Linked DNA regions of Homo sapiens: region 1 is linked to region 2. A link means that fine-mapping ties the variant in region 2 to the expression of a gene that starts in the linked region. Tissue or cell type: whole blood. Region 2 holds a variant in brackets; the other region holds the start of a gene. All regions are shown on one strand. Distances are between the middles of the regions.

What was found. PIP is the estimated chance that this variant, and not a neighbour inherited with it, causes the effect.
Region 1: it holds the start of GNA15, and the variant in region 2 is fine-mapped to the expression of GNA15 in whole blood (INTERVAL, PIP above 0.99).

Annotation. Positions count from the first base shown.
Region 1 is chr19:3,131,243-3,140,209 of GRCh38, forward strand. GNA15 (G protein subunit alpha 15) reads left to right here and starts at 4,791. Exons shown (of 7, transcript NM_002068.4): 1 at 4,791-5,353. The coding sequence starts at 5,209. It also overlaps the pseudogene RPL35P10.
Region 2 is chr19:3,151,674-3,161,844 of GRCh38, forward strand. It overlaps GNA15 (G protein subunit alpha 15), which reads left to right. Exons shown (of 7, transcript NM_002068.4): 4 at 34-162; 5 at 4,150-4,279; 6 at 6,055-6,208. It overlaps GNA15-DT (GNA15 divergent transcript), which reads right to left and starts at 3,502. Exons shown (of 4, transcript NR_110670.1): 1 at 3,345-3,502. RefSeq lists enhancers at 3,118-4,075, 3,363-3,692, 3,733-3,822. The variant C/A (reference allele first, on the strand shown) is at 4,834.

The DNA.
Region 1 (8,967 bases), 21 kb before region 2:
ATTCTACAAGGGCAAGAAGTACAAGCACCTGCACCTGCGGCCTAAGAAGACACGCGCCGTGCGCCGCCCGCTCAGCAAGCACGAGGAGAACCTGACGATCAAGAAGCAGCAGCAGAGCGAGCAGCTGTCCCCAGTGCGGAAGTGCGCGGTCAAGGCCCGAGTGGCGCGTTGTCAATAAAGCACAGCTGGCTGAGAAAAAAAAAAACAAAAAAAAAAACACCAAAACAAACAAACAAACAAAAAACACAGCCACAAAGAGCCAATCCACGGTCAGGAGGGAGTTGTTCCGGTGATGGAACTACATTCTGTATCCTGTTTATAGCAGTAATTTACACGAATCTCTACAGCTGTTAAAACTCATAGAAACCAGGCCGGGCGCGGTGGCTCACGCCTGTAATCCCAGCACTTTGGGAGGCCGAGGCGGGCGGATCACGACGTCAGGAGATCGAGACCAGTCTGGACAACATGGTGAAACCCCGTCTCTACTAAAATACAAAAAAAATTAGCCCGGCGTGGTGGTGGGCACCTGTAGTCCCAGCTATTCGGGAGGCTGAGGCAGCAGAATGGCGTGAACCCGGGAGGCTCAGCTTGCAGTGAGCCGAGATCGTGCCACTGCACTCCAGCCTGGGTGACAGAGACAGACTCCGTCTCAATAAATAAATAAATAAATAAATAAATAAATAAACTCATAGAACCATACACCAAAGAAAGTAAATACAATGCTACATAAATTTAGACAATTAAAAACAAGATCTTTTTTTGGGGGGGACAGACCCTTGCTCTGTCAACCCAGGCTGGAGTGCAGTGGGTCAATCATAGCTCACTGCAGCCTCAACCTCTCTGGCCTAAGCAATCCTCCCACCTTAGCCTCTGGAGTACCTGGGACCACAGGCATGAGCCACCACCCCCGGCTAATTTATTTTATTTTATTTTTTAGAAATGGGGTCTCACTGGGAAGGTGGAGGTTGCAGTGAGCTGAGACCGAGCCATTGCACTCCAGCCTGGGCAACAATAACAAAACACCGTCTCAAAAAAAAAAAAAAAAAAAAAAAAGAAAGAAAGAAAGAAAAAAGAAAAAAAGAGATAGAGTCTCACTATGTTGCCCAGGCTGGTCTTGAACTCCTGGGGTCAAGCAATCCTCCCACTTCAGCCTCCCAAAGTGCTGAGATTATAGGCATGAGCCAACATGCCCAGCTGAAATAGATCTTATTAGCAAAAAATACCCCCCAAACCCGGAAATAAATATTAATACCACAGAAGTCAGAATGATAGTTACTGCTGGGAAGGTAGAGATTACTATGAGGAAAACACTAGGGGTCTTTGTGGGGCTAAGGTCTTTTTTTTTTTTTTTTTGAGACAGAGTCTTGCTTGTCACCCAGGCTGGAGTGCAGTGGCACGATCTCAGCTCACTGCAACCTCCACCTCCCAGGCTCAAGCAATACTCCTCCCCCGGCCTCCCGAGTAGCTGGGATTACAGGTGTGCACCATCACACCTGGCTAACTTTTCTATTTTTAGTAGAGACGGGGTTTCACCATGTTGTCCAGGCTGGTCTTGAACTCCTGACCTCAGGTGATCTGCCCACCTTGGCCTCCCAAAGTGCTGGGATGACAGGCGTGAGACACCGCGCCCGGCCTGAAAATGTCCTTAGTCTTGGCCTCAGTGGATTCTGTGGATACCGGCTTCACAACAATTTATTAGGTAATACATTCAGGTTTTATGTGTTTTCTGAAAGAAATATTTTCTACACACACAAGCTCACCCTGGTGTTCCCAGCTGAGCTAATAATACACGACAAATGCTCAGCATGTGGCAAGGAAGTAGCTCAGCCCGTTTAGGGAACCGCAAGGGAGGTTTGTTCAGCAGCTGGAGAAGTGGGCAGAGCCTGGGCCCTGGATCCAGGGAGCCGGCTCATTAATTCTGAAGCCAGCGGGAGCCACAGAGGGTCTGCCACCCTGGTCCAGGCTGTGAAGATGGCGGGTGCTGGTATCCTGTCCAAAAATGCCGCAGGGAGATGCTAGGAGAGTGGCCCCCTGGGCTCACCCTGTGGGGCCTGTGGCTCAGCCTCGTCTCCCAGTTTTGCTGGTCATTTCTGTTTCAACCATCCTGGAAGATCTGCACGGCCATGACCTATTTCTGCGTTTCTTTGCCTGTCCTGGGTGGGACTGCCCCTCGTTGCTGCTATCCGGTTGGGGGCGGGAAGGTGGGTGGCTGGGTGGGCAGATGGCACCTGCCAGCCCCAGTGACCAGATGGGGGCCCCTATCGTACTTCCCATCTGTCATTCGTTATGAATCAACAGTGGAGAAAACCACACGTTTGTGCTGAGCTGGTGAAGCTGCGTCAACGGCTGTCACCGAGCCCTGGTGTCTGGGAGGAGGTGGGGACGGTGGCTGCCAATGGCTGTGTGGCCCTGGGCACGTAATTCGCCCTCTCTGTGCCTTGCCCTATCTGTAAAGGGACCAGAGGCCCCCGAAGTACAAGAATTACGTGTATCTCTTGGGGAGGAGAGTTTTGATCCAGAACTTTCTAGAATTTTCTACAGCCTGTCAATGGGGGTGGGGAATCTTCACCCAAACACTCTGGCTCTGAGTACCTAGGAAGCAGCAACGTTTCTACCAAGCTGCCAGCCACCAGCCCACCCCTAGGGCCCTGAAGTCCCAGAGGGATCAGGTCAGGGCGGCCTCATGGCACTCATTGGGAAGATCTCCTTGACCAGTGAGGTCCACTCCCAAAGTCCCTCTTACACCCGATCTGCCTGTCTGACTTCTGATCCTGAATATCACTTGTCTGTGCGACCTTTGTTGATCCATTTAGAGCAATGACCTTGAACCTTCCCCAACAACATCTCTGCTTAATTTTTCTGGCAGAATTTTTCACCATCCAACGGGCTCAGGTGTATTAAAAAATATATATATTTTACACGTGTGTGTATATATATACACACATATATATTTTTATGTATAATATACATATATGTATATTAAAATGTATACTTTTATGTGTGTATATATGTATGTGTATATATGTATGTGTGTCTATATATTGTGTATATATATGTATGTGTATATATGTATGTGTATATACATATATGTATGTGTGTCTATATATTGTGTATATATATGTATGTGTATATATATGTATGTGTGTGTGTGTATATATATACATAGAGAGAGAGGGAGAGTTTTGTTTTGTTTGTTTCTGGAGACAGGGTTTCACTATGTTGCCCAGGCTGGAGAGCAGTGTTATGATCTCGGCTCACTGCAGCCTCCATCTTCGGGGTTCAAGTGATTCCCTTGCCTCAGCCTCCCAAGTAGCTGGGACTACTGGTGCGTGCCAACATGCCCAACTAATTTTTGTATTAGTAGAGATGGAGTTTCTCCATGTTGGCCAGGCTGGTCTCAAACTCCTGACTTCAAGTGATCCTCCTGCCTCGGCCTCCCAAAGTACTTTGATTACAGATGTGAGCTCCCGCACTCACCTGGCCAAATTTTTTATTCTTTTATTTTTTATTTTTTTTGAGATGGAGTCTCACTTCGTCGCCAGGCTGGAGTGCAGTGGCACGATCTCAGCTCACTGCCACCTCTGCCTCCCGGGTTCAAGCGATTCTCTTGCCTCAGCCTCCCAAGTAGGTGGGACTACAGGCGTGCACCACCACGCCCGGCTAATTTTTGTATTTTTAGTAGAGACGGGGTTTCGCCGTGTTGGCCAGGCTGGTCTCGATTTCTTGACTTTGTGATCTGCCCGCCTTGGCCTCCCAAAGTATAGGGATTACATGCGTGAGCCACCAGGCCCAGCCTAAAATTTATTTTATTATCTGTTCTTTAACTAGAACCTTAGGTAAGGAGGTCTGGGATCTGTGTCTCTTGGCTACCGTGCCTGGCACACAGTTGGCGCTCCATGAATGCACGCACAATGAAGGGATGGCCCTGCCTGGAATCTGCCTGGTAGGCGTCTAGACTCTGGGGCCCCGCAGGTGAGGGATAGGCTCCCGGCTCTGCCTTGTGCCAGCCCCACCGGTCACTCCCCTGCTCTATGCCTCAACCTCCTCATCAGTCAAACAGGGATGACAGTAGTAACTATACAGGGTGATGTGAGTGTAAAACCAGCTAATGTGAGCCAAAACCCGGCTAATTTTTGTATCTTTAGTAGAGACAGGGTTTCGCCATGTTGGCCAGGCTGGTTTCGAACTCCTGACCTCAGGCAAGCTGCCCACCTCTGCAGGGTGGATCACCTGAGGTCAGGGCAGAGTCGCTGGAAACAGTCCATGACACCTGGCCTGAGCTGTTTCTTAAAAATATATCAGAAGGGCCGAGCGTGGTGGTTTATGCCTGCAATCCCAGCACTTTGGGAGGCCGAGGCGGGTGGATCACCTGAGGTCAGGAGTTTGAGACCAGCCTGGCCAACGTGGTGGAACCCTTTCTCTACTAAAAATCCAAAGTTAGCCCGGCGTGGTGGTGGATGCCTGTAATCCCAGCTACTCGAGAGGCTGAGGCAGGAGAATTGCTTGAACCTGGGAGGCAGATGTTGCAGAGTCAAGATCCTGCCACTGCACTCCAGCCTGGGCAATAAGAGTGAAACTCTGTCTCAAAAAAAAAAAAAAAAATATATATATATATATATATATATATATATATATATATATATATATATACACATATATATATATACACACACATATATATATGATATATATATAATGTATCAGCAGTAGCACGGGTCTGACGGTTCCTGATTGGCTCCGAGGAGGGGGACAGCTCCGGGTGAAGCCTGAGGAGAATCCGCCCCTTCTCCAGAAGGAGGAAGAAGGGCCCTGCTGGTCACACAGGACCCAGTCTGCGGTGGGGGTTTTCCCGCCACCGCCCCGCCCTCCCTGGGGCCCCCACCTCACCCTCTCCTGGCACCCTTCACCGTCAACCTGTCGGGCCGGGTCTGAGCAGGTCTGGAGGTGGGCGGGGAGCCCTGGCCTCCCCACCTCCTCCCGTCCCCACCCTGTTCCCAGCACTCAAGCCTTGCCACCGCCGAGCCGGGCTTCCTGGGTGTTTCAGGCAAGGAAGTCTAGGTCCCTGGGGGGTGACCCCCAAGGAAAAGGCAGCCTCCCTGCGCACCCGGTTGCCCGGAGCCCTCTCCAGGGCCGGCTGGGCTGGGGGTTGCCCTGGCCAGCAGGGGCCCGGGGGCGATGCCACCCGGTGCCGACTGAGGCCACCGCACCATGGCCCGCTCGCTGACCTGGCGCTGCTGCCCCTGGTGCCTGACGGAGGATGAGAAGGCCGCCGCCCGGGTGGACCAGGAGATCAACAGGATCCTCTTGGAGCAGAAGAAGCAGGACCGCGGGGAGCTGAAGCTGCTGCTTTTGGGTGAGTCCAGGGTCGGTGGGCGGTGGGTGGTGGGCAGTGGGCGGTGGCCAGCCGGCAGGGGTGTCGGGGCAAGGAGGCGGATCAGGCTAGGTCAGACATTGGCATCGTGGAGCCGTCGCCTCCTCCCAGGGAATGGGGAGCCTGGAACCCATTTTCCAGATGAGAAAGACTGAGGTTCAGAGAAGCCAAGTTCCTTGTCCAACGTGCGACCAGCGGCCAGGTGCCCAGGCCTGTCCACTGTGTGGGGCATATACAATAGCAGACGTGGCTCTACCGGGCCCCTGCCGGGCAGGCCCAGCACGCCCTACCTGTCTGTGTCATGGCGAGGGAATGATGAGCTCAGGTGTGCAACCCGTTCTGGCCAGCCCACCCGTAAGGGAGGGGCCGGCTCCAGCCTCTCCTTCACCAGGACGCTCCCTCTCGCCTTTACCTCCCTGCCATGGCTGGAGAGGGCTTGTCTAGGGCTCCTTTGGGGGCTAGAAAGGATGGATTGATTGGTTCATTGGTTCATTCATTCATTATTCATTCATTTAAGATTTATTGGGTAGCTCCCAGGAACGAGGCAGCCAAACAGGGGAAGATATTTCTGTCTTCCTGGATCTCATTTCCTGTGAAGGAGCCAAGACATTTAGTCTGTAAACTCATAAGCAGATAAAATAATTCTGGCAACAAGAATTATCTAGGAGAAAACAAAACAGGGTGATGGCTTCCATGCGGAGGCTTCAGATGGGGGAGTCGACGTCAGTAACGGTTCAAGATTCTGAACTCTGGCTGGGTGCAGTGGCTCAAGCCTGTGATTTCAGCACTTTGGGAGGCCCAGGCGGGTGGGATCACTTGAGGTCAGGAGTTCAAGACACAGCCAGGCCAACATGGTGAAGCCCCGTCTCTACTAAAATACCAAAAATTTGCCAGGCATGGTGGCTCATGCCTGTAATCCCAGCACTTTGGGAGGCCGAGGTGGGTGGATCACAAGGTCGGGAGATCGAGACCAGCCTGACCAACACGGTGAAACCCCATCTCTACCAAAATACCAAAAATTAGCCAGATGTGGTGGTGCGTGCCTGTAGTCCCTGCTACTCGGGAGGCTGAGGCAGGGGAATTGCATGAAACCAGGAGGTGGAGACTGCAGTGAGCTGAGATCATGCCACTGCACTCCAGACTGGCGACAGAGTGAGACGCCATCTCAAACAAATAAACAAACAAACAAAACCAAAAATTAGCTGGGCATGGTGGCACACAGCTATAATCCCAGCTACTCGGGAGGCTGAGGCATGAGAATCGCTTGAACCCAGGAGGCAGAGGTTGCAGTGAGCTGAGATCGGGCCACTGCACTCCAGCCTGGATGACAGAGCAAGACTCATTGTCAATAAATAAATAAATATAAATAAAATAAATAAATAAATCATGCCTGTAATCCCAGCACTTTGGGACGCCAAGGCGGGCAGATCACTTGAGGCCAGGAGTTCGAAATCAGCCTGGTCAACGTGGCGAAACCCCGTCTCTACTCAAAATACAAAAAAATTAGCCGGGTGTGGTGGCATGTGCCTGTAATCCCAGCTACTGGGGAGGCTGAGGCAGGAGAATCGCTTGAAACCAGGAGGTGGAGGCTGCAGTGAGCCAGGATTGCACTATTGCACCCCAGCCTGGGCAACAAGAACAAAACTCCGTCTCAAAAAAAAAAAAATTCTGATCTCTGAAACCTCGGGGTCTTCTCATTCCCGTAGCTTGTTTCCCCAATTACCTTTCCCTGATTATGGCCCCGTTGGCCTAAGCCCGGGATGCTAGCCTGGGAGGGTCTTCTGGGATCCCCGAGCTCTGGGTTGGGGGCTGGAGAAGGTCTCAAGTCTTCTGGACTCGCGTTTGTCTGCCCCGGGCAAAGAGCTTGATCATCCCGTGATGGTTGCTATCGTCCTTTCCTCGTTCAGTGGGAAGAGGCCGCCCGAGAGGAAAGAGAGAGAACATCGAGTGGGATGGTGGGGACCCCCAGGAACTGCACCTTCACTGGGGGCCCTTTCTTTCTTTTTTCTTTTCTTATTTTTATTTTTATTTTTTTGAGACGGAGTCTTGCTCTGTCACCCAGGCTGGGGTGCAGTGGTGCGATCTCAACTCACTGCAACCTCCGCCTCCCGGGTTCAAGCAATTCTCCTGTCTCAGCCTCTTGAGTAGCTGGGATTATAGGCACGCGCCACCACGCCCAGTTAATTTTTTTTTTTTTTGTATTTTTAGTAGAGATGGGGTTCCACCATGTTGGCCAGGCTGGTCTCGAACTCCTGACCTGGTGATCAACCCGCCTTGGCCTCCCGAAGTGTTGGGATTACAGGCGTGAGCCACCGCGCCCAGCCTCTTTTTTTTTTTTTTTCTTTTTTTTTAGATTGAGTCTTGCTCTGTCCCCCAGGTTGGAGTGCAGTGGTGAGATCTCAGCTCACTGCAACCTCCGCCTCCTGGGTTCAAGTGATTCTCCTGCCTCAGTCTCCTGAGCAGCTGGGACTACTGGTGCGCACTACCACACCTGGCTAATTTTTGTATTTTTAGTAGAGATGGGGTTTCACCATGTTGGCCAGGCTGGTCTCGAACCCCTGACCTCAGGTGATCCTACCACCTTGGCCTCCCAAAGTGTGGGGATTACAGGCGTGAGCCACTGCACCCAGTCAAGGGCCCTTTCAACTCTAGCCTTGATCCCTCTTACTGAACGAGATAAAAGAATATCTCAGCAGGGCATAGTGGTTCATTCCTGTAATCTTAGCACTTTGGGAGGCCTAGGTGGGAGGATTGCTTGAGCTTAGGAGTTTCAGACCAGCCTGGGCAACTTAGCAAGACCCAGTCTCTAAAAAAAATAAATAAATAAAATAATTAGCCAGGCATGGTGGTGCGCAACTGTAGTTCCAACTACTTGGGAGGCTGAGGTGAGAGGATCACTTGAGCCTGGGAGGTTGAGGCTGCAGTGAGCTATGATCATGCCACTGCACTCCAGCCTGGGTGACAGAGCAAAGCTGACTCTGTCTCAAAAAAAAAAAAAAAAAAATGCCGGGTGCAGTGGCTCATGCCTGTAATCCCAGCACTTTGGGAGGCCGAGGTGGGCAGATCATGAGGTCAGGAGGTTGAGAACATCCTGGCTAACACGATGAAACCCCGTCTCTACTAAAAATATAAAAAATCAGGGCTGGGTGCGGTGGCTCACGCCTGCAATCACAGCACTTTGGGGGGCCGAGGAGGGTGGATCACGAGGTCAGGAGATGGAGACCATCCTGGCTAATGTGGTGAAACCCCATCTCTACTAAAAATACAAAAATTAGCCAGGCGTGGTGGTGCGCACCTGTAGTCCCAGCTACTTGGGAGGGTGAGGCAGGAGAATTGCTCTAACTTGGAGGCAGAGGTTGCAGTGAGCCAAGATCACACCACTGAACTCCAGCCTAGGCAATAAGAGTGAAACTCCATCTCAAAAAAAAAAAATCTATCTATCTATCTATCTATCTATCTATCTATCTATCTATATTTGACATATTAATGTGTCATATTATGTCACATTATGACGTATCATATCGATATGTCTTATTATTTTAAATAAATAGGGCTACTTAGGCTATCTACTTCTTCTTGTGTGGGTTTTGATCATT
Region 2 (10,171 bases):
CAAGGCTGGGCCTCAGGACTCCTTGCTCTGCAGCTACCTGTCCCACCTGGAGCGCATCACCGAGGAGGGCTACGTCCCCACAGCTCAGGACGTGCTCCGCAGCCGCATGCCCACCACTGGCATCAACGAGTACTGCTTCTCCGTGCAGAAAACCAACCTGCGGTGAGCGCTCCACCTAGGCCCAGCCTAGGGGGCAGGGAAGGCTTCCTGTAGGAAGGGCAAAGGAGCTGGGGCCCTGAGGGATGAGTAGGAGTTTCTTAGGCCCAGCCTTCAAGGAGCTGCCAAGCTAGGGGAAGCAAAGCTCCATGTAGACACCTCCAGGCCCCCAGGTAGTCAGGACTGGGACCTGTAGGAGCCCAGGCTGAGGCATCAGAGATCCAGGAGGGAATATCTTCTTGGAGGAGGGAATATTAATGGGGTTTTGAAAGACGAATAGGAGTTCAGTAGTCCTAACCCTGAAGGGGCTGCTGGGGAGGAGGAAATAGAGACTATACAGTCAGGACCAGGTCTGGGGAGGCCTGGTCTGGGGAGCTCAGAGGTGATCCCTGTAGTCATCAACACTGGGGGATGGACTAGAGTGTGAGGCTGGAAGTCAGGAAACTCAGAAAAAGGAGGAGCCAGGACAGCGGGCGTGGGGATGGAAAGGAAGGGATGGGCAAGAGTTGTTTCTGATGTGGAATGGGCAGGACTGGATGAGTGTGGGAATTAGAACAGGAAGTCAAAAATGACACCTGAGTTTTTTGTCAAGGTGATGGGGGTAGACAGTGGAGCCGGTGGGCTAGAGGATGAAAAGGTGGTGATGGAGTCCTTTGGGACAGGTTGAGTCTGAGGGGCCTAGGGGGACTCCACCTTAGCTGGCAGACAGAGGTGGGAATGGCCAGTGCAGCACCCTAACCCTAACCCTAACCCAGCAGAGCAATGGCCAATGTCAAAGGTCAGGAAAGGAAAGGTCAAGAATACAGTGAGAAGAATGACTCTGGGATTGGCAGTTAGAGGGTCACTGGTGACCTTAGCAAGATCTGTTTCCATGGGCTGATGGCGGGGAGCTGAGCAGGGGTGCAAAGTCATGCCCAGAGACAGCGATTGTGTTTGACCTACCCCTATTTGGCCTTCCTTTCCCTAAATCCCCCAAACCTATTGTTTTGGCCTCTTCAATAGTCCTTACTAGGAAGGTTCATAATTTATCTGTTTTCTGTGGGTCTCCTCTACAAGATGGAGAGCCTCACAAGGTTAGGGGCTGAGTTTGATTCTTCTGCTTCTTTAGTGAATAGCTAAAGGTCAGAGTAGAAGTTGGTAAATGTGGGTGGATGGTTGGAAAGATGGAATGGGGGCAACCCGCTCGGGTCCCCTTCCACGCTGTGGAAGCTTTGTTCTTTCGCTCTTCACAATAAATCTTGCTGCTGCTCACTCTTTGGGTCCACACCACCTTTAAGAGCTGTAACACTTACTGCGAAGGTCTGCGGCTTCATTCTTGAAGTCAGCGAGACCGAGAACCCACGAGAAGGAACCAGCTCTGGGACACAATAGTAGTGTTAGTACCCAAGGATGACTTCTATGGGAGAGATACTTGGTCTGGGAATCTTTAAAAAAAAAAAAAAAGGAAAGATGGAAGGGAATGGATGGGTGGATGAATGGGTGGATGGATAGATGAATAGATGGATGGATAAGTTGAGGGATAGATGAGTGGATGGATGGAGTGGCAGGATGGATGAGTGGATGAATCAATGGATAGATGGATGAGTGGGTGGATGGATGAATGGATGGATAGATGGATGGATTGAAAGAGGGATGAGTGGATGGATGGATGGATGGATGGTTAGATGGGTGGATGGGTGATACATGAATGGATGAGTGGGTGGATGAGTGGATAGATGGATAGATGGGTGGATGAATGGGTGGATGGATGGGTGAATGAGTGGATGGATGAATTAATGGGTAGATGGGTGGAAGGGTGATGGGTGAATGGATGGGTGGGTGGATTGGTGAGTGAAGGATGGATGGATGAGTGGATAGATGGATGGGTGGGTGGGATGGATGAATGGATGGATGAATGGGTGGGTGAATGCATGGATGGATGGGTGGATGAGTGGATGGATGGATGAATGAATGGGTAGATGGGTGGCAGGTGATGGATGAATGAATGAATAAATGGGTGAATGGGTGAGTGAAGGATGGATGGATGAGTGGGTGAATGGATGGATGAATGGATGAGTGGATGGGGGTGTGGGTGGGTGGATGGGTAGATGGGTGGACGAGTGAGTGGATAGATGGGTAGATGGATGTATGAGTAGATGGATAATGGGTGAACAGATGGGTGGATGGATAGATGAGTAGATGAAGCGATGGATGGATGGGTGGATTGAGTAAATGGGTGGACAGGCAGGTGGATGATGGATGGATGAATAGATGGGTAGATGGATAGACGGATAGATGGATGGATGAGTGAATGAATAGATGGATGGGTGGATGGATAGATGGATGGATGGGTGGGATGGATGGATGGATGGATGGATGAATGGGTGGATGGATGGGTGGATGAGTGGATGGATGGATGAATGAATGGGTAGATGGGTGGTGGGTGATGGATGGATGGATGAATGGGTGGATGGATGGGTGGATGAGTGGATGGATGGATGAATGAATGGGTAGATGGGTGGTGGGTGACGGATGAATGGATGAATGGGTGGATGGGTGAGTGGATGAATGGATGAGTGGATGGGTGGGAGGGTGGGTGGATGGGTACATGGGTGGATGAGTGAGTGGATAGATGGGTAGATGGATGGATGGGTAGCTGGGTAATGGGTGGACAGATGGGTGGATGGATGGATGGATGAGTAAATGGAGAGATGGATGGGTGGGTCGGTGGGTGGATTTCGTAAATGGGTGGACAGGTGGATGGATGATGGATGGATGGATAGATGGGTAGATGGATAGATGGATGGATGAGTGAATGGCTGGATGGGTGGATGGATGGGTGGGTGGATGGATGATGGATGGATGGATAGATGGGTAGATGGATAGATGGATGGATGAGTGAATGGCTGGATGGGTGGATGGATGAGTGGGTGGGTGGATGGGTGGATGGATGAGTGAATAAATCGATGAATGGGGTGGGTGGGTGGATAAAAGTTTAGGAGTGAAGGTAGAGGCTGGGAAATCATGGGGAAGTCTGGGCCAAGGAAGTGATTTTTAGGTGTGGCCCAGGAGTGAGACGAATGAATGGAGTGAGGGCTCAGAGGACACTGAGACCCGAGATGAGAGGTGATGCCCACAGTTCCCAACTGGTCAGTTGCTGATCCCACTCCCGTCTCAGTCTCCAGAGCCCCCTCTCGACGGCTGCTTACCCTGTCTGGCTCTGGATGTGGGGTTTGAGGGACTCTGAGGATGCATGGGAGGAGTGGGTCTCAGGGATCAGGAGACACATCCAGCAGCTGCAGCCTAACTGCTTCATCATCAGTCCCGGTTTCCCCTCCTGTGCAATGGGGCAAGTCCCTTCTTGCTTGAGGCCCTGGGCCGGGCCCGTCCAAAGCCTCTGTTCTGGGACTTCCTGAGTAACGGTTGCATCCCCAGGGAAATGACGCACAGATGGTTATCAGCGACCCACATTTCTCAGAAGAGAGAGAACAGGAAGGTGGGGGCAGGGTTCAGGCTTTTGTTACGGTGCGTGGGGCTGAGTCACAGATGGAGGGGAGGACGTGTGCTCTGGGAACAGCCCTCATTCCCATCTGTGTGGCCACTGGACATGCCCATGGCCAGCCAGAGCACAGGAGCCCCATAGCACAGATGGGAAAACTGAGTTTTGGAGATGTTTGGCAATTTCCTCCGCCGGGTCGCCCAGCCAGCACCAGGGCACATCTCAGATCTGTCCAACCTGCTCCCCTCTAATATGGGGGTAGAAAGCAGGCAGCCCAGCACAGTAGAAGCTTGGGAAAGTCCCCGCTCCTCCCTGGATCTCAGGCTTCTCATCTGTAAAATGGGCGTAAGACTCATCCTTGCCTCGCGGGAATGACATGGCAAATCCACGAGAGGCTAGCACCTATTCTTGCTGTCGCTATTATGGATCTTGGCATATCCCAGACGTGATGGGGGTTGGGGGTGTCACGGAGCAGGCTCCTGAGCTCTGAAAGGGGGCACCTCGGTTCCCTGTAGGATCGTGGACGTCGGGGGCCAGAAGTCAGAGCGTAAGAAATGGATCCATTGTTTCGAGAACGTGATCGCCCTCATCTACCTGGCCTCACTGAGTGAATACGACCAGTGCCTGGAGGAGAACAACCAGGAGGTGCGCCACCGCCTCCCTCGCCCTGCCCACTTGTTGGCCCAGGGACCCTCACCTGAGCAGGAAGCTCTGGTGCAGAAAGGGAGGGATCCCTGCTCTTGAACGGGCCTGTGTGTGCCCAGCATGGCTATGAACTTGACCCTTCAGCCTTTTGTGGTCAGATTGCAGCAACCCAAGACACAGACCTACAGCATTTGTTTGGTCAGGACCCCAGACACACACACACACACACACACACACACACACACACACACTACAGTGCACACACGCACATACACAATGCATGCACACAAACACGCACAGACACGTGCATAATACATGCACATACACACGTGCACACACGGGACACATGTACACACGCAGTGCACATGCACAACACATGCACACGAACACACATGCACCACACACATGCACACTTGCATGCACTCACGTGCACAATACACGCATATGTACACATGCGCACACACATGAACACACACATGCACACACACAGTACACACATGCACACGCACACACAGGCACACACACGCACACACAGGCACACAGGCACACACATG[C/A]GTGCACACACACATGCACGCACACGCACAGGCTGGAGTGCAGTGGCGCGATCTCGGCTCACTGGAAACTCCGCCTCCCGGGTTCACACCATTCTCCTGCCTCAGCCTCCGGAGTAGGTGGGATTACAGGCACCCGCCACCACGCTCGGCTAATTTTTTTTTTGTATTCTTAGAAGAGAGGGGGTTTCACCATGTTAGCCAGGATGGTCTCAATCTCCTGACCTCGTGATCCGCCCGCCTCGGCCTCCCAAAGTGCTGGGATTACAGGCGTGAGCCACTGTGCCCAGCCAATAGCCTCTTTTAATAAGTACACCAGTCGTCTAGGATCAGGGCCCACCCTACTCCAGTACGACCTCATCTGGGTTAATTCCTCGTGTGATGGCCCTGTTTCCAAAGAAGGTCACAAACTGAGGTTCTAGGGGGTTAGGTCTTGAACGTATGAATTTTGGGGAAATATGATGTACCCCATAACACAAGGCATTTGAGACCTTATTGTACTTTTTTTTTTGAGATGGAGTCTCGCTTTTGTCGCCCAGGTTAGAGTGCAGTGGCGCGATCTCAGCTCACTGCAACCTCCGCCTCCCGGGTTCAAGCGATTTTCCTGCCTCAGCCTCCCGAGTAGCTGGGTTTACAGGCACCTGCCATCATGCCCGGCTAATTTTTTGTATTTTTAGTAGAAACGGGGTTTCACCATGTTAGCCAGGCTGGTCTCCAACTCCTGGCCTCAGGTGATCTGCCCGCCTTGGCCTCCCAAAGTGCTAGGATTACAGCCGTGAGCTGCCGCGCCCGGCCAGGTCTCCCTCTTCTTATGAGGACAGCAGTCACGGACTTGAGGGCCACCGTATTCTAGTATTGCCTCACCTTAACGACCTCTTCAAAGACCCTATCTCCAGGCCAGGTGCAGTGGTTCATGCCTATAACCCCAGCACGCTGGGAGGCCAGGAGTTCAAGAATCTCTCTCCAGATAAGGTCACACTCTGAAGCTCTGGGGGGACATGAATTTCGGGAGGACACACTTCCAACCAGCACAGGCACAAAACCATGTCAGGCACACCCAGGCAGCTGTCCATATGGAAACACGGGCACACCCGCCTCAGCCCCAGCCAGGCAGATAGGGGTGAGCCCATGCCCCTGGAGCCAACAGCCCCGTCTCCGCGATGGGAGGGTTTCCTGTCCCACCTGGCTGGTTGAAGCACTAACCTGCTTCTGCCCCCAACACAGAACCGCATGAAGGAGAGCCTCGCATTGTTTGGGACTATCCTGGAACTACCCTGGTTCAAAAGCACATCCGTCATCCTCTTTCTCAACAAAACCGACATCCTGGAGGAGAAAATCCCCACCTCCCACCTGGCTACCTATTTCCCCAGTTTCCAGGGTAAGTAATTCTAGAACTTTCTATACCCTTCAACTCCCAAAAGCAGCTCCGAAGAGAGATGCTAATCCAGACTCTACTTCAGCCTGGAGTCACCGGAACTTTCACATAGGATCAGACCCGCGTTCTAGACTCAGCTCCATCCACTGCCCGACCTCATTGAATCTGTTTTCCCTTCTGTGGAATGGAATAAAATAGCAGAGGCCCTTGGAACTGAGTAAAGTGAGGAATTCTAAAAACACGTAGCATATCACGTACACCTTAAACATTTTATTTATTTATTTATTTTTGAGACAGAGTCTTGCTCTGTCACCAGGCTGGAGTGCAGTGGCGTGATCTCGGCTCACTGCAACCTTTCCCTCCAGAGTTCAAGCGATTCTCCTACCTCAGCCTCCCTAGTAGCTGGAACTACAGGTGCGCGCCACCACGCCCAGCTAATTTTTGTGTTTTTAGTACGAAAAGACGGGATTTCACCATGTTGACCAGGATAGTCTCGATCACTTGACCTCCTGATCCACCCGCCTCAGCCTCCCAAAGTGCTAGGATTATAGACAGGAGCCACCATGCCCGGCCAAACATTTTATTTTATGCTTGTTGGCCAACATTTGGGGTTTGAGCCAAGATCCTTCAAGCATGGGTTTGCTATGTAGAGGTCACTGTTGTAAAGCACTTCTGGAAAGATTGTCTACTATTTCCAGAATCTGCCTAGGTTTTAAGAATGATTCTTTTTCTTTTCTTTCTTTCTTCTATTTTTTCTTTTTGAGACAGAGTCTCACTCTGTCACCCAGGCTGGAGTACAGTGGTGCGATCTTGGCTCATGGCAACCTCCAACTCCCCGGTTCAAGTGATTCTCCTGCCTTAGCCTCCCAAGTAGCTGTGATTACAGGCACGTGCCACCAAGCCTGGCTAATTTTTAGTAGTTTCCTGTCCTATTTTTAGTAGAGATGGGGTTTCACCATGTTGGTCAGGCTGGTCTCGAACTGACCTCAAGTGATCCACCTACCTCAGCCTCCCAAAGTGCTGGGATTACGGGCGTGAGCCACCGCATCTGGCCATAACGTTTCTTTTTCTAATCTTTCATAGTGATCTCATCTATCCCTAATTGGATAGCAATTTCTTTTTCTTTAATCCATTTTTTCTTTAATTTTTTTTTGTTTGTTTTTTGAGACGGAGTCTCGCTCTGCTGCCCAGGCTGGAGTGCAGTGGCGCAATCTCAGCTCACTGCAAGCTCTGCCTCCTGGGTTCACACCATTCTGCTGCCTCAGCCTCCCGAGTAGCTGGGATTACAGGTGCCCGCCAGAACGTCTGGCTAGTTTTTTGTATTTTTGGTCGAGATGGGGTTTCATCATGTTACCCAGGTTGGTCTCAATCTCCTGACCTCATGATCCACCTGTCTCGGCCTCCCAAAGTGCTGGGATTACAGGCGTGAGCCATCGTGCCCAGTCTATTTTTTCTTTAATTTCTTTTCTTTTTTTTTTTTTTTTTGAGATGGAGTTTTGCTCTTTTTGCCCAGGCTGGAGTGCAATGGCACAATCTCGGCTCACCGCAACCTCCGCCTCCCGGGTTCAAGGGATTCTCCTGCCTCAGCCTCCCGAGTAGCTGGGATTGCAGGCATGAGCCACCACCCCGGCTAATTTTGTGTTTTTAGTAGAGACGGGGTTTCTCCATGTTGGTCAGGCTGGACTTGAACTCCCGACCTCAGGTGATCCACCCGCCTCGGCCTCAAAGTGCTGGGATTACAGGCGTGAGCCACCACACCTGGCCTTTCTCTTTAATTTTTAAAGCAGAGCTTTGAACAATGTTTCCAAAGCACACAGCTTAGTTTTGTAATACAATGACCTTCTTTCATGCGGCACTTGTAGCTACAGATTTGCATAACGTTTCTTTTAATTACATATGAATCAAGACACGTACAATGGGCAAAAACAGGTTTGGGAACAAACTCTCAGTCCATCCAGAGGGTGAAAGGGCCACAGGGCAACTACAGAGAAACACCATCTAGTGTTGGGCACCACTTAGTATATTTTACAAAGGGGAGGCAGAGTTGTGGTTAATCCAGGGACCAACGTGGGGAAGGTACATATTCACTAGCACTTTCCCCAGAACACCACTGTGAGGATAAAGTGTGGTGGCGGGTGTCCTGCTTAGCTACTGCCGAGTAACAAACCATCCCCAAACTTAGTGACTTAAACTGGTCATTTTCCTTTGCTTATGATTTTGTGGGTCAGGAATTTGGGAAAGGTTGAGCTGGGTAAGTTCATCTCTGATCCATGTGACATCAGCTGGGCTCTATGGGATTGGAGATAAACTTCCAAGATGGCTTCTTCCCCCATATGTCTGGTGCCTTGGTGCTCTTGGCACTCTTGGCCTCTCTCTCTGTGTCTCTCCCTGCCTCCCTCTCCCATCTCATCTCTCTCTCCTCCCCTTTCTCCTAGTCTGTCTCTCCTTTTCCACCTCCCCTGTTCTCTCTGTCTCCATCTGGGGCCTCATGATCCACAGCCTCTTCACATGGTTTGAGCTTACTCACAATATGGCTGCCTCAGGGTAGACAGACTTCAGCCCAGGTGGAAGCTGCTTCTCATGATAGCCTCAGAAATGTCAGACGTTACTCTGCCACATTCTATTTGTCAAGCACATCACTCATATCAGCCCGGATTCAAAAGAAAGAGACTCCATCTCTTGAAGGCAGCATGACACATGCATACAGGGAGGGAAGGAAGTGACGGCAGCCATCTTGGAGATAACTTGCCTTCATGTCCTGGGGATGCCGTAACAAAGTACCACAAACTGGGTGGCTTAAAACAACAGGAAACAACAGAAGTCCAAAGTTAAGGTATTGGCAAGGTTGGTTCCTTTTGGAGGCTCTAAGGGAAAATCCATTCCATGCTTCTCTCTCAGCTTCTGGTGGTGGCCTACAATCCTTAGCTTGTAGACATATCACTGCAATCTCTGCCTCCATGTTCACATGGCTGTCTTCTCACCATGCCTTTATGTGTCCTCTCCTGTTGTTATAAGGCCACCAGTCATTGGATTTAGGGCCCATACTTTGGTATGACCACTTTTTTTTTTTTTTTTTTTTTTTGAGACAAGGTCTTGCTCTGTTGCCCAGGCTAGAGTCCAGTGGTGTGATCACAGTTCACTGCAGCCTCAACCTCCTGGGCACAGGTGATCCTCCCACCTCAGCCTCTTGAGTTGCTGGGACTACAGGCGCACACCACCACACCTGGGTAATTTTTGTATATTTCTGTAGAGACAGGGTTTCGCCATGTTGCCCAGGCTGATCTGGAACTCCTGGGCCCAACCACACATCTGTCATCCACCTGCCTTGGCCTTCCAAAGTGCTAGGATTACAGGCGTGAGCCCTCATGCCTGGCCATGACCTAATTTAACTTAACTAATTACATCTGCAAATATCCGATTTCTAAAAGTCATATTCTGAAGTTCCAGGTGGACATGAATTTTGGGGGACACTGTTCACCTCAATATACAAGCAACCATAGTAGATGAGTCCTTAGTACATGCTTGACACCAGGTCCACAATCAGTAAACATAAACTTTGGTGAAGTCACCAGGTTTTGATCCCTGGTCTTGTCATGTCTCAGAGCCCATGAGGCCAATTTTAGCCAATTATACCCACAAGATTCAGGGTCTGGGAGATAGACGTCAAGTTGTTCCAGGATGGTGGCCTGGATAGCCCCTCTTCCTTGCCAAGCAGCCCTGGGAATCAGCTCATAGTTTAGAGAATTTGGGAACAGGATAAGGTAGATATTTTTTTCATTCAGGTCAAAGGGAACCACCCATGACTCATCCTTGTCTCCCAGCACAAGTGACTGGTGCACTCTTTGCTGACTCCCAGCCCTACCCTCCACTGTGCTAAATAATATTTGTGATAATAATAAGAAACCACACTTTGGGAGGCTGAGGCGCGCAGATCGCTTTAGGTCAGGAGTTTGAGACCAGCCTGGC